Linked DNA regions of Homo sapiens: region 2 is linked to region 1. Evidence: fine-mapped expression QTL. Tissue or cell type: whole blood. Region 1 holds a variant in brackets; the other region holds the start of a gene. All regions are shown on one strand. Distances are between the middles of the regions.

Evidence for each region. PIP is the estimated chance that this variant, and not a neighbour inherited with it, causes the effect.
Region 2: it holds the start of DHRS9, and the variant in region 1 is fine-mapped to the expression of DHRS9 in whole blood (INTERVAL, PIP above 0.99).

The regions. Positions count from the first base shown.
Region 1 is chr2:169,101,155-169,109,374 of GRCh38, reverse strand. No RefSeq gene overlaps it. Among named protein-coding and RNA genes, the nearest start is that of DHRS9, 36 kb to the right of the region's middle. The variant A/G (reference allele first, on the strand shown) is at 3,988.
Region 2 is chr2:169,065,808-169,074,027 of GRCh38, reverse strand. It overlaps DHRS9 (dehydrogenase/reductase 9), which reads right to left and starts at 4,465. Exons shown (of 5, transcript NM_001376924.1): 1 at 4,311-4,465.

The DNA of each region.
Region 1 (8,220 bases):
TGTCTATAAAAATATAGAGAGGATTTTTTTTGGTGTGTTTTTGGATGTTTTAATGGATTTTTCAAAGTAAATCTTAAGGTTTACCCTAAAATAGCTCATGCAACCATTTCCAGCTTAGATGTGGCCATTTGCTCTTTGACAATTACGAGAAACTGTTAGGCTGTAGCCTTGGAGCCTGGGCTGCCAATCGGGCCGAGTGAGGTGACTCACTAATAGGGGTCTACCTTCCCTGGGATGGCTGGCACAGAACCTCCAGACCAGGACAAGCCATGTCTTGCTTCTAGCTTCACTAAAAGTCGTGGATCAGTTTTCGCAGTGACCCACTCCAGTGTAATGTCAAAATGTTTTCCTAACAAATCTCAAAACCTTTTAGCTTTCAATTTTCTTTTCCTTTCAACTTCTTTGGGGCCACTTTTCTATTGCAGAAGAGTTGGGATTAATTAGAAAATACTCTTCTGTCTTCTATTTTTACTATGGAAGGAGAAAAGAGGGATTCTTGGTAACATAGGTAGCACAGGTAAATGTGGGCTTACCCAAAAAAAGAAAATAGTTGACAGACAGCTGCTTTTGCTGCAGGCTTAAATGCTTACAAGAAAGGGAAGTGAATTAGAACATGTGAATAGGTCATTTTGAAAAGTCGCTTTGTGTGTGGGAAGAGACAGGTTGATGGAGAGGCCCACAAGTGTCTGACAAGGCAGACAGCTGAGTCCCAGTTTAGTCCCCTGTGTACATATGCATCTGTGTGTCTTTGGGCACAACACTTACCTCTCTCACATCTCTATTTTTTCCATCTGTAAAATGAGGCATCATTGTGGCACTTACCACATAAGGTCGTTGAGAAGATTATATTAGATGATGCATATAGCACATATCTACATAAAATGTATCCAACAAAGGATATATCTTTCTGCTGTTATTCATTCACACTTTCTTTCTGTATGAACTTATTTTGGGTACATACTGTACCTTTTGCAAGCTTCCTTGGCAATTTACAGAAATGTAGGTGGTCTTACTTCACTTCCTGCTGAAATGAGAGAGCAATCGGTACTTTAACCATCTAGGGATAAGATATAGAGATGTTATGCAATCTCTACTTGGCTTTGAAAACAGAAGGCACTTAGGATCTGCTTGTCACCTAACTTGGAGCCAAATAAAATGCTAAGTGTAGGAAATATGTCAGTTCTCACAAGGGCAGGCCTCCTATCACATCCCTTCTCCATCAGACTGCTTCTGGGAGCTGAGAGGGCCTCCTAGGTGGGGTCCCCCTGTTTTTTTCTTAGTTTGGGTTTAAGTGGAGGCATTGGTAACCAACAGCCATGAGTCAGGTACCTCAGTCTTCCTCCAATGGTGTTTCTCATCATGCCCAGGCTGATTTGACACTAAAAAAGGACCAGGACCTCCTCACTATGTCACCTCCCTTTTAAAAAAAAATTCACAGTACCTTTGTCACAGTGTTCAGGTTGAGGGTGATAGCTCAGGTTCAAAACCTGACCACAGTATTTCCTGTGGTTTCTATTGCATTTCATTACACTGTGCTAGAAAAGTGCAAGGGAAAGTGCTGCTATCATTACCTTGCGGAAAAGCAAGTATTTCTGCAAGTTTATGGTAACACAGAAACAATCAATGCCAGATGCAAGCCGGGGATGGTGCATACCTATAGTCCCAGCTGCCTGCAAACTGAGGTGGCAGGATTACTTGAGCCTAGGAGTTAGAGACCAGCCTAAGCAACATAGCAAGAACCTGTCTCTAGAAAATAAAAAAACAGAAAACATCAGACGCAAATTCATCAAAGATTTGGTATGAGAACTTGTTCTTTCTCCAAAGTGATTGTGGTAATTATTTTTTATAATAATAGTTTTCATAGTTCAAAACTCTATATGACCAAGTGAATTGACTTCACTGATAAAAGATAAAACTTCTCATGGCTGTGACTTAGATATTCTAAAAACATACAACCACAGAGCCAGAAGGGCCCTTAGCGGCATCTGTTGCTGGTTGCTGCCTGCAGGAGGCTGTCTGAAGTAGAGGTTGGTGGTCCCAACTGCTATCCCTTAAGCTCTGAGATTCTGGATAAGTTTCATACCCTATCTGAGCTCTGCTCCTCTTCATAGTCTTGCAAGGTTGTTGTAGAAAGATTAAATGAGGTAACCACGCATGCAAAACAGTTAACACAGTTTAATTAACAATTAGCCAATGAACACACAATTAGTGCTGTTATTGAACAGTTGCTCAACATTTGGTAATAACCATTATCATCATCATTATCATCTTATTTCTACAACTTTACAGGGCTGAGGGTGTCATGCCCTTAGTTCTCTATTCTGGTCAGTCTCTGGGGTCAGATTTCCTGCTGTGTAACTGAACTCTCTTATCTTTCCCGCAATAGAGGAAGCCCATTTCTTCGTATCCAACTCTTGCTCTGTCCTGAATCTGACATAGTATTATTTAAGTCTCCTCACCTTTCAGGGCCTCTATTCCCTTTTCTTTGAAATTACCTGCTGGTAATTTCTTTGAAATTAGGAGGAGTGTTGGCGACCTGAAGGGCCTTGCAACTTTGCCACTATGTATAGTAACATCCTTCTGGTAACTGAAGGCATTGCCAGGCCAGGCTTCCATCTTGGGCCATTCCTCTGTAGCCATGGGTAGGACTCCCCACAATGGTGCTGAGAAAATGGTGATGAATGGATGTTTGTTGTGGTTGTTTTCCCCACAGGTCTCAGATCTCCTCTCATCATTCTGAGTGTTCTGCTGAGGATCTCTTCTCGTTACACCTAACTTATACAATAGGGAAGAACAAAAGTCAGAGTGTTGCTCTTGTCCTTGTCTTCGACCTTGGCCAATCCATTCAAATAACAGATCAAGGTGCGGGCCAACTTATAGCTAGGTTCTGCCATGAACCTAAGCTAATTTGAAAAAGTGCCAACAAAATGAATAATACTCATAGCTACAATACATTAAAAGCACTATGCTGTATTTGACATGCATTTACTTGTTTAATTCTTGTAACTGTCCAAGGTACACCCACCCCCATTATACAGATGAGAAAACTAAGAGAAATTAAGTAATATGCCAATGGTCAAGCCAATGCTAAGGGCAAAGATGGGTTTTGACCCCAGGAGCTCGATCCAAGAGTCTCTGTTCTTGACCACCTATGAGGCACTTCTAGACAGATTTCTCACCATTTTTTTAAAGTACTCATCCAGGAAAGATGCTCAGAGGCAAGAAGATGGGCTAGATGAACTCCTGAGGAGTGTTTCACTCCATCATGCTGCCAAGCCAATGCCATAGCCCCATCATCGCATGGCTCCATAATGAAGGATCACAGAGTGTGGGGCTTAAACAACAGAAAAATGTTGTCTCACACTCCTGGAAGCTAAAATTCAGAAATCAAGGTGTTGGCAGGTTGGTTCCTTTGAGGGCTGTGAGGGAAGGATCTGTTCCAGGCCTCTGTCCTTGGCTTGCAGATGGCTATCTTCTCATGCGTCTCTTCATGTTATCTTCCCCCTATGTGTCTGTGTCCAAATTTTCCTTTTTATAAGGGCATATGTCATATTGGATTAGGGTCCACACTAATGACCTCATTTTAACTTGATTACCTCTGTAAAGAGGCTGTCTCCAAATAAGGTCACATTCTGAGGTAGTAGGGGTTAGGACTCCAACATATATTTTTTGCTGGGGTGATATATTTCAACCCATAACAGCTCCCCTGTCATTTCAAGGTAATAATGAGTGTGATGACTCCATTTCCTCACAGCAGGGAAGTGGTTTACTTAACAGCGAACTGTCAAAGAGGTTTAGGTTTTAGAATCAGACAGGGCAACTTTGTTAATGCCTCATTTGCTACTTTTTGCAAATAGTCAAGTAAGTGGATCTCTGGTACTCATTTAAAAAACAGAACAGGTTTAAGAAATAAATAAAGGGAAAGTTTCAATCAATGTCTTACTTTTAGAAGCCTTGACTGCTGGTATCATGGAACTGACTCTTAGT[A/G]AATCAAACACTCTTCAGGAATTAGATCAGCAAAGGGAAGGTCATATTTTCTAAATAGTTGCCTGAAATAATTAATTAACTTTACTTAGAGGAGTAACTTACCTTCAGAATGATTTATTAATGGATTGGTGATTCCACTTATAAATGCTATTGTTGATAAATGGCATTACACTCATAAGAATTGCTTACAGTCAATACAATTATCTTTTTTCTTATTTTATCCAGGGTAAATATAATTGCTGCAATAAATTAGAGAGGAAACAAGAGCATAGGGAATATTAACTTCAAGATGTATTTAATGAAGGAATAACAGCATCGATATTGAATGACTTCATGTTGTGAAGTTGTCACAACCAAAATGGAGTCACTTGTGTTAAAAAAAAAAAAAAACCCTCACAAATAGAGCTATGAAGGCTGTGAAGAGAGAGTTCTCATGTTTGCATGCCTGATTTTAAAAAAGTCTAACATAAAAGACTGCAACAACCACAACCTTGCACAAAGGCCATCACAACCTTACACAAAAAATACTTCTGCAAAGACATCTTCCCAGGAACTGTCTGCCCAACCTCAGACTGGCAGACCTTGTTATTGATCACCCTTGTTATTGATCTTTGTAGCCAAAGGTAATCATTTCAAAATAATTATGTATCCTTCTCATTTTTTCCTTTAAAACTCCTTGTCTTTTTTTTTTTTTTTTTACCTCCCTGAATGCACACATAGTTTACTATGGCACCTGCATTCCCGTTGCAATGCCCTACTCCCAAATAAACATCATTTTCTTTTAGAGAGCCTGTCTGTATTTGTTACTTCGTTGACAATATGTTGGTTAAGTCAGGCACTGAAGAAGTAAAACTGATGGAATCATAGCCATCTATTGCCTAAGGAGGGCCAGATTTGAAAATGATGACTGTGAACATTATTTTTAGGATTCCTAGTCTTTTGTTCATTAAAATTTGAACGTTTTAGAGCAAGGTAGAGAAAATGTGGAGTCTAGCTATGCTACCGTTTGTGTAAAAAGTATGTGAAAAGGTTATCTATACATTGTCTATATATATGCATCTCAGCAATGACACAGGAGAAAGTCCTAGCTAGGGACCAGAGGCCTGGGAAGAGGAAGACTAAGATTTCACTGTATATTCTTTCCTAGTTTTGTTGTTCAATTTATACTGGATCCATTAATAACACCTGTTTTAAGAAGTGAGCACATGTTTCTGACAACTGCACCCCCACACAATTAAACTAGCTATGGATGCCCAGGTTGCAGGTTGCCCCAAGAATCCTTCCAGCCTCCTTTTCGCTGTGCTAATCCTCGGGGCTGCTTCTGGGCAAGATCTGAAATTTAGCTTTAGTTGATCTTGATGTGTATTCCCTCTCCTTTCAGCAGCTGCCTCCTTTCTCCTCATCAGAAGCTAAGGCGCTTCTTTCAAGTCTTGAAGAAATGAAATTCCAGGCCTCATGAAAACTGAAGCAAGAGATATTTGGCTTGTTACATCCCACGGTTTTAGTGATTAGAAAGGTTAGGTCTCTTTATGCTGGTATGTACCATATTTGAAGAAAGACCCTGTCCAGCCATAGAATCCTCAAATGTCATCCAAGTCAGCAAATGCAACCCCATATTGCTTGACTCCCTTCTCCGGCATCCCCATTCCAAGGGTGGTCCTTCCTGTGCTTGCCTGCCAATGGCAGCTGCCCTTTGATCCAACTCCTAGTGGTACAAAAATCCCCTCTATGGTGCTGAACTTGAACTCTGTGTAACTTCCACCCATGACTCTGGCTCTGCCACTCTGTGCCCTCTGATATGAGTTTAATTCCTGTTCTCAGGGAGGCCCCTTTAAGTGGGCCGTACTGTCTTCCCTCAGTCTCTTCCAAGCAAACAAGCCCAGCGCCTTCTGCTAACCTGGACTTCAGATAATCTGCTCTCCTGCCGCCCACTCCAAAGTGTCTGTTGCTCTATAAGTGTAGAGTTCCCAACAGTGAAGGCAAGTTTTACCAGAGCCCTGAGCAGCTGGGAGGAGACATAACCATTACCAACCTTACTCTATATGTTGTAAATTTAAAATTTAGGATGAGATCAGAGCATGATTTCCTTTTTTTCCTTTTGGAGGTAAGCGGGGAGTAGTTAAGTCACACTGTCATATTACATCATTGATTCATTTGGAACTGATTTTTGCATAAAATACCTCAATTATTTTCACAGTGTGGCTTTGAATCCCATGTTTGCTTTTTTGGAAGCAAAACAGAGCCTTGCACCTTTCCCTGTACCATTTCATCCTGTTAGTCCATGGTTAGAACTCATAGCAGCATTTTAGACCCAGATTCTGTCTTCTCATGTATTTCCCTGGTGAGTTAACAAAACCTGCCTTTGTTTTCATCTAAGTCAGTGATAAAAATGCTCCTTGCAGGGACAGGACTCAGATCAGATTCCATTCCACCTTGGAGGTGAAAGAATGGCCAATTGGGAGGGGGTCCAAAGAACATTTGGGCGCTTGGAGGGTTTTCTGACCAGAACACTTTTGTTTATTTCATTCAGAATGAGCATTGACATTTGTAAAGCATGAAGGTAACTGCATGTATTTCTGTTCACGAAAAAAAGTCTAATTTCTTAAAAGGGTGTTTGCAGCAGGGGTTGGAGCGAGTGGAAGGAACGTGGAAAGAGCCTGCACACACTGTCCATCATTTCTCTCAAGGTCTGAAGGCATGGGGAAAGTGCTTGGGGATGACTGGCCAGGAGGCTTGACTTCTGCTTTCAGCACCCAGAGCTTTAGAGTTTCTCATTTACAGTGGCTCCAGAGTTCAGAAAGAACTTTAATGAAGAATTTTGGCTTTTAAAATCCATTGTCTAATTATGCTTTTCTTGTATATTTATTTTTGGGAATGAGCATTTTATCAAGTGGGCATTTAGGAATCTTAGATTACTAGAGATGAAAGAATCTTGAATTTTAGAATCCTCATTTGTAAAATGGGACAATAAATGCACCTGTTGTGCAAAAGTTGTAAAGACTTCATGAGAAAGTGCATAGATAGTGTTCTGGGTAGATTCTGGCTCATTTTAAAGGCTCAGTGAATGTGAACCATTATCATCATGATGGCAGCAGAAACAATAGCCATTTCTCCCCTCATCCACACTGAGAAATTTTGGGTGAAAAATTATAAAGAATGTTCTAGTAACTAAAGCTAATCAACAGGGTAAATTGGAAGATGGTGACCGTCCATTCTTTAGTGGTATTGGAGCAGAAACTTGTCATCTTGGGAATGTTCTTAGTGGAAGTGTCTCTGTGAGACAGATTATGAGCTATATGACCTCTTCCAGCCAAATGAGAAAGTCCAGCCACTTACTGTTTTTTTTTTTTTTTTTTTTTGAGATTGCAGTGTGGTAGTGCCAGGAGGCCCTGACCTCATTCCAGCTAAGGTCCCCTCATTTCTCTCATTAGTGTTCCCAGGACTGGCCCTAGCCACAAGGACCAGCATAGTTTGTCCCACTATTTGTTGAAAAAAATACAGTCATCTGGAAACATAGTATGTGTGGGACCCCAGACTTCTGTTCTTTTTCTTTTGTCTCATCTTAAAAGCTGGAAGATGTGTAGTGTTGATCTTGGGTCAGAACAGTTGATCTAAGGCCTTTATTGAAATTAGCAAAAAGTGATTGCAAATAAATTCCTGAAACAACTAACAACAACAAATGGACAAAATCCATAACAACAAAAGAAGAAAGAAGATTGAAAAAGAGAAAAAAAGAAAGAAAATCCAGAAATCTAGTTAGAAAACTTTAAGGATCTAGGGAATGATGTTTAAGTGCCTTTATTATGTCATCATGAGTGAGAAAATTTTGAAAATAGAATACAGGAAAACTAAAAGGGGTATATCTTTGTATATTGCTCAAAATTATGCATCACTCTTATGCATAATTGGTTATTGGCCAGGTAAGACTAATGCTAGATTAATTTAATAACAGTCTTGTTTTTTGTTGAACCAGAATCAAAGTTTAGGGAAATACTGTCTAAGACTCAAATTCTTTTTTTAGGCACCCGTCACCACGCCTGGCTAATTTTTGTACTTTTAATAAAGACAGAGTTTTGCCATGTTGGCCAGGCTGGTCTCAAACTCCTGACCTCAGGTGATCCACCCACCTTGGCTTCCCAAAGTGCTGGGATTACAGGCATGAGCCACCGCGCCTGGCCTCAAATCCTTTTTAATAATACAGCATGGTGGTTCTGAGCATCGGCTCCAACATCA
Region 2 (8,220 bases), 35 kb after region 1:
TTAGCATGTTTAGTGGCATCTCTGGCCTCTACTCTCTAGTCAGCAGTAGCACCCCTCCCCAAGTTGTGAAAACCAAAAATGTCTCCAGATAATGCCAAATGTCCCCTGGAGGACAAAATATCCCCCAGTTTAGAACCACTGTTCTAGAACTTCCTAGTGTTGGGAGTCCAGAATATCATAGCACTAGAACTACTTTTCTGGAAACTTAGTCATTGGTTCCTTGGTAGTATCACATTGATGAGTTTCTTTTTTTAATGGCCTCATGGAAAAGTTGGGTTACTTATAAAAATTACTCATATCCTGCTGCTGCAAGCATTAATTTCCCTCTATATAAATATTTTAAAATGTCTTTTTGTCATCAGGAGGATAAGAGGCTGATATGGTTTGGCTCTGTGTCCTCACCCAAATCTCTTCATCCAATCACCTCCCATCTGTTCCCTCCCTCAAGGTTTACCCCATGCTGTTGACCCCCAGCTCCTCTGGGGGTACCCTTTGGTGGGTGGCCAACTGACCCTACAGAATTCAAAATATCCTCCTAGCAAATCTATGATTCTCAAGTTCCTGGTTGACCAAGTCAGGGAGGAATGATAATAACTGCTATGGTTCATTGAGTGCCTAACATGTTGTAGGCCGTTTCCTAGGATCTATAAATATTTATCTTATTTACACCTTACGACAAAATTATCTTCACTGTATAGAGGAGGAAACACATTCAGAAGCTCTGTTTAATTGGCTCCAGCTACAGTTGTAGTGGCAATTCCGGGACTGATACCCAGACCATTCTGTTCTACCACTGCAGTCTGTATTCCCACTCAACTCTGGGCTCTGCATATACTTCTCTACATTACCAGTTCCTTGTATGATACTTGGCATTATGTTGATGTTTAGTAAATGTTGTACAGCAAAGAAGGAAAAAAGGAAGGAAAGAAGGAAGTCTCCACTGTAGCTCCAGAGTTCTAGTGATAATTGGATTAATCTTTGAGACCTCTGAATCGCTGGGGCAAAAGGATGATAGCAATTATAATAATACATAATATTCACACTTCCAATTTTGATAACATTACAAAGTTTTGGGAAGTGTTTATGTAATATTTATCTCATGTAATTGTCAAGATATTTCTGGTGTAGAGTAGAGGTCATAACTATGGTCACTTGCCAGAGAGTGACCAGAACTAAAACTCTCTGAACTCTAAACTGTGTGAAAGAGAAGGAAGAACTGCAAAGAGATGAACACATTATCAGTCGACAGCAGGCACAAGAACACTTTATCAAACTTTCTCTACCATATCACAAAGATTCAAAAGAAACCAAGAAAGGAGAACTAGTTTTGTCTTTCATACACCATGCACAATGCTTTATAGTAACTGCCTGTCAGCAGCCAAAGGAAAATATTGCAACTCGAGCGCTCTCCTTGATCACTTCTGCTTTTCTTTTTCTTCCTGAGTTTGTTTTCCTAGTAAAAAAGTTAAAATAGGATTATTTAATTTCACTTCTCTTATTCACCTTCCTCTGTTTCTTAAAAATAAATGACACAGTTTAAAAAAAAGAACAGAAAATATCTCAATATTATTGTGAGGTATACTTTTTATAAGCAATGTAGAGTTCTTTCTAGATAGTTCCTCCCAGACCAGTTGATTTTATTTCCACATAACTTCATGAAGTGTTTCCTTTTAGAAAGCGATACCAAAGCTAGTCAACCACACTGTCAGGAGTTTGTAGAATCTTTATTTACTTCCAATGTGTTGCAATTGTGGCCCAAGTTGAATCAACAACTATGTTGTTTACCAAAATACATCAAATAGAAAACATTGAGCAATGATTTTCTAAAGTATTCTCTTTTTGGAGTTCTCTTGCATGGCTTTCTGAATACTGAAAGCCACTGAACATGTATGCCTCTTGTATATTTGAATATTGTAAACCCGGTTGACTTAACACAACATTCCTTTTTCATTTTTTCCTTTTCATTGAAGTAAAAAAAAACTGGTTTTTGTTTTGTTTTGTTTAAAAAAAAAAAAAAAACCCAGGTGGCTTTTAGAGATTTCTTCCACACTTAAAAAAAAATGAACACTGGAACCTATTGACATAAACTAAAAAATTATGTTTCTGTGAGAAATGTGTTCAAATGGTCCACCCAGAAATCTGAAAAAAAAATTTTTTAATGGCACCAAGGGACCCTACATTAAATGTGCTTGCATTAAGCAACGAATGCTTTTTTGAGAGTCTGACTGAAATAACAATTATAATAATTATTATGCTGCTGATGATATAGTTGAGTTGGTATTTATCGTCGTGGGAGGGTAAGTTCCCTTACTCAATGGATGAAGAAGCTCCTCCTCTGGTTAGTTACATTTGCCCTTGATTCCTGCTTCCCTGAGGGCAGGAGGTAATCCTTGGCAGCCAGACTGTGCTTTGGGTACTGGGACAGCGAGGCATGGAGTTCGTGTGTACTTCCACTACAGATTCACTCAGACAGCCTCCTCAGGATGTAGCTTCCCTCCCTCCTAGCAGAGGTGTACCAACTGCCTCAAATAGGGAAGATCTGCTGGATTTACATTTTGCATTTTTAGTTCTAAGGATAAAAGCATCTCTGATTTTCTTTTGCCTTCCTTCAAAACGTTTAAATTATAATTCACCATCACATCCCTAACTATTCATTAATTATCCCAAGTCCCTCCTAGGTTTATTATTTTGACAATGTTTCCTGACAGTATTAGCAGGTTACAAATTATTGTTAAAGCTATGATTACTTTATTTATGGTCACTGCATAACAATTGCTATCTGGGAAAGATTATATGTTGTGTACAGTTATCATTTGTAGTCACAAGGCTTTAAGGAAAGCTTAGAACATAGAACATATGTATAGGTTCCAAAAGTGTGTTTAAAACTTCAGTATATTTCAGCCACAGTGATCTTTGAGCAGAAGAAAAGGTCTGAGTTTTTTGTTGTTGTTGTTTTTTTTTTTTGAGACGGAGTCTCGCTCTGTCGCCCAGGCTGGAGTGCAGTGGCGTGATCTCAGCTCACTGCAAGCTCCACCTCCCGGGTTCACACCATTCTCCTGCCTCAGCCTCCCAAGTAGCTGGGACTACAGGCGCACGCTGCCACGCCTAGCTAATTTTTTGTATTTTTAGTAGAGACCAGGTTTCACCGTGTTAGCCAGGATGGTCTCGATCTCCTGACCTTGTGATCCGCCGGCCTCGGCCTCCCAAAGTGCTGGGATTACAGGCATGAGCCACCGCGCCCGGCCAGGTATGCGTTTTTAAACACTGTCCCTTAAGACAGTGACATTTGTTATAAGAGTTTTAACACCAGTTCCCATTTCCTACTCTTGAAATATATGAGTTAATGATTTTTTTGTGTGTACTTAAACATTGAAATTTGTTCTAAAATCTGAGCACCCTCTTTGAATATTAAAAATAGAATAGAAAGGTGGTATAACATTTAACTTTGATTTGATGCAGCGTGTAGCCAAGGAGATTTTTAGAGCAGTTAATATATGCCGAGGGATACTAGGATAAATAGTACAGAAGCACAATCTGTGCCCTTGGTCTAACAGTGTAGTGGGACATTTCAGAGCCATTTGTACAACTCTAACTTGATTGTTGATTTTAAAATGTATTTATTGAAGCACACCTCCTAAACATCAAGTCATTGCGAAAGGAGCCATATCATCATTTGAAAAACCAAACCACCGGATCATAAAATGGGGAGTAAATATCTAAAGCAGGCTTATTGCTGCCACCCCTGGATCCAGGGATCAAATATGAATTGTTGGGAATTTCCCTGCTTTTTTATGACCTACAAGGCATTTTTTCCCCTCAGTTTAGTGAATATGTGTGTGTATTCATGTAAACTTACATCTGATAATATTGATAAAGCGGACAGACAAACAGATCAGACCTGCAGTTGACAGAGAATCTGCTGCTTCAGTAAGAAACTCATCTAAGAATCCTGTGCTTTTTGGAGACTTCCCCCTCCAGTTTCCAATTAATCATAAGATTCACAGATAGTGTCAAGAAGGCACAGAGAAAATAAAATATGAATTGAATTGGGACACTAGGGTGCTAAAGGACATTCAAAGAGAGTCCTGGAGGAGTTCAAGGCAAGATCCCAGGTCACACCGAGGTCATTTCTATGGTGAGATGGACCCAGCTCCCATCACTGGGTTCTAATGTGTTACATTAAAAGAAGTAGCAACATTGACCACAGCTTGAAAGACCACCGATTCATTCTGCAAGAGTGAGGAAAATCAAAGAAAGTTTAGATTGACTTGATAAATAAAAGAATAAATGACAAAACTGTCATCAGTTACCTTATTAAAGATGAAGTGGGACACAGAAACTGTTGGTGGACTTGCTCAGCTGATGGCAGCTTTCCTGCTGTGCACGGGGAAGGAAGAGTTGTGCCACCCTGGCCAGGCTGATCCTCTTGAGGTCGAGGTGCCTGGGTTTCCGTAGAGCTCTGAGTACTACATGTGTGAGGAATCCTCAGGTTCTCTCCTTGCTCTGTGAGTCACTCCCATTGTGACACAACGTGATGACTAAATATCTCTTGAATAGCTCATAAAAGCCAAGAAGCTGTAGGTCGCATGTTTCAAAAGGAATCAGCAGTATAAATTTAGCTACTTTTAGAAGAGACTTTAAAATGATCAATAACATTCATTTTATGATTAGTACAATCTCTTGACCAAATTCAGCAGCAGAAATAATATAACAAAGAAATAAATATTTTGTAAACTGCCTGGTGCGTGGTTTTAATAGTTTTCAAATTGTGATTATTCTTCATAATCTCCATTTTTTCCTTCCTGTTAGCATGCCTTGGCTTATTTAACACTCCTTCCCTCCTAAGAGAATAAGTAGGAGAAATCAGTCTCTGAGATTGGTGTTACCATTTTTTTTAAGATGGGCGAGCAAGGAGATAAAAACAACATAATAAAATGAGGTTTTGGAATTACTTATGGGTCTTAATTTATGTTTTAAGGTATGACAAGGAGAGCTTACTAAAGTGGTCTCTGGAACTGAGACCGCTGAGAATAGGAAAGGATGCCTCCTCCCCTCCCAGAGTTTGTCTGTGTCAGAGTTGATCACAGTTGACCTGGCGTATCCTGGGACCACAGTGGAAAGTACTGAGGCCGCAGGCGAGGAGGGGAGGAGATGGTGCTAATCTAGCCTGCCACCCTTCACCTTCACCACTGTAGCCACTCAGGCAGGTACAAATACCACTTTGCTGATTTTTCATTTTCAGTTTCCTCGTATACCAGTTTGTTGCTATACTCTTCTGATTTCCCAGACTCTGTATTCCTCCTTTGAAAATTGCAGTTATTATGGTTCAACTGGAATGAGCACATGAATGAACATATCTGTCTAGGTAGAGTCAGGACACTGCTATCACCCTTTAAAATAAGTAGTGGTCTTTTTTCTTTAAAAGAACAACAAACCCACTTTGGGAGGCCAAAGCGGGCGGATCACTTGAGGTCAGAAGTTTGAGACTAGCCTGGCCAACATCGTGAAACCCCATCTCTACTAAAAATACAAAAAATTAGCCAGGCATGGTGGTGGGCACCTGTAATCCCAGCAACTTGGTAAGCTAAGACAGAATCTCTTGAATCTGGGAGGCCAAGTTGCGTGTGAGCCAAGATCGCGCCATTGCCCTCCAGCCTGGGTAACAGCGTGAGACTCCGTCTCAAAACAAACAAAAACAAACAAACAAACAAACTGAAATTTACTCAGGTTCACATTTAGGGTGCCCCAAATGTGCTAAATATGCTTTTTCCTCTTTAGCATTTCATAAGTATGGCTTAAATATAAAACCTCATAGACAATACATTGACTTAGAGCCACATGAAGTAAGGTATAAATAATTAATACTGAACCCTTCCTGTGAGCCTGTTATTGTCACTAAGAGGAGAAGAGAGCCTCATGCACCTGGGTGGTCATGCAGTGTTAACTGAAAAGGGCAAAGAAAAAGTTATAACAATAGTTAAAATTTTGCTACTTAATGAACTCGCCTAGTGCAGCCGTGTTTCAAAAACTTTCCAAATAGACTTAAAAAAAGTCAAATGTTTAGACTGATTTGCATATTGGAAATTAGAATTCTTGCCATCTATCTGGCTTGTCCCTCAATTCCTGTGGGCCCAACTCATGGGTTCAGTTTCAGTATATGGCACCACAGCCAGAACACCCCCTCTCCTTGTCCAATGGTCCCACATAGGCGATCAGTTAATGAAGTCATGTTAGCAGTGTCTTATCCAGACTGTAACCATATACACATTCAAATTCATATCTCAAGTGCCAAGTTGTCTTTCATTTCACCTCTTTAATATACAACCTTTGAAAGTGCTACTTTGTTCAGAACTCATCCTACATTGACTTCAGATCAAAGATCACATTAAAAAAAAAATCTGGAACCAAATTGCCATTTGAGTTTTTTCCTAGTTCCTTTTTAAAACAAAGGAGTGCACTGTGCATTTTATTTTAATGTTTGTAGGTGGAATGTAAGTATACAGTGGTAAGGCTAGATGCCACCACAGACAACACACTAAAGATAGAGTTATCCTTTTTCTTCTGAATCTGTATGCCTCCCATACTTCTACCCAAGAGTATCTTCTCCACCCCTTTCCAAATACCAAAACATAAGGAGGAAACTCAGATCTGAGGCTGTCTCAGGAGACATACGTTAGGCTTCCTGCAACTACACCATTCTGGGGATGGTCTAAGTCACAGATCATTCTAAGATGAGCTTCAACTGGAGGAAAGCACTTACTCCAGTGTGCAGGCTGTGGTGGGTCCAACTTCTGGAGTATATCCAGTGTCACTCTTGTAAGGCTGACCAGGAGGGTGAGGCTGGTGATAGAGCATGCACAGTGGCTTCTTCCTTCTGGCATAATGATGTAATCCTCTCTCTCAAGTCATTCTCAGTGGAACATGTTTCTCTGAACGACTATAAGCTGCTATGAAGACTTCATGTTTTAAAAGTGTACTTTATATTTTCTTCCTCCTCCCTTTGTCAACAGGGAGTTCTCTTATTTCTACTGTAAAGGGAACCTGTACTTTGGTTCCCTTTTTATACAAACAATGCCTTTGACATTTGAGTAGCTTCTTTGGCTAGGCTTGGTCAAAACCAGGAGCTTTGTTACCCATTTGGCCTTTCATGACTCTCCCAGCTGTAAGATGAAGCAGGGCTAATCTTTTGTTTTTCTCTACTATGCAATCTTTAGATATACAAATAGAGATGGAGTCATGGGAACATTTGATAGATTCTTTGAATAAAGATTTTTCTTATTTACAGAGCACATATCCTTTTAGCTTACCCAACAAGAGGTCCTGCGTTGAAAAGTGAAGTGAGAAGTATTATATGGGGAATTATTGTTCTGGTAGATGGAGCAAGAGAGAAGATAGGTGAGAATGAAAGTAACAAATGAACAGAAACACTGTGGATTTTCAGCAACTTGAAAGAAGGAAAGGTGAAGGCTAAGAAAATGTGTCTGTCACAGAGGGAGGGAGGTGGGTGCTCCTTCTGGTATGACCATCACATGTTCACATGTGAGCATTAAAAATTTTTTTCCTGGCTTAAGAATGATCTTCCTGCCAAGTTTCCTAGTTTCTTTCAATCCCTTTCAAAAAGAAGGCAACTTCTTTTTCCCAGAATCTTAACTGAGATGATAAAATATCAAATGAAATTAAGAGCAGATGCTAGATGCAGCTGATTGTGTAATATGCAAGTACTATCCAGTGGGAAAGAACTCACGGGGATTCATGAAGTGGGGAGGAGTGAGTTAGAGACAACTGTCTTCAGATCCTGTTTGGCTTGTTCTGGACTTTGTTTTGGGTTGTTCTGGACTTCAGACCCTGTTTTGGGTTGTTCTGGGCTTTGGTTCTGTGTGAGGCCTATTTGGCTAAAAAGATCCAAAGATGAATAGAAAGGGGCCTTTCTATTGAGGAATAATTCACTGTTAGCTCATTTATTGCTGAGTAAGGAATCTCATAGACTTTCCCCTCTCCTTGGAGAACCCCTGATTCTTGCTGGCTCCTTGAGACTATTTAAGATTGTGGGGGAAAGGGCGATCTTATCCTTTGCTGATGGATATGTGAATTGCTACAGCCTTTTTTGAAAGCTGTCCAGAAAAAAAATCTGTTAAAATAAAAAGCTACTATTTGAGACAAAAATCCTGCTCCTAGGATTCTATCCTATATAAATGTATATAAGTGTATATGAACAGGATG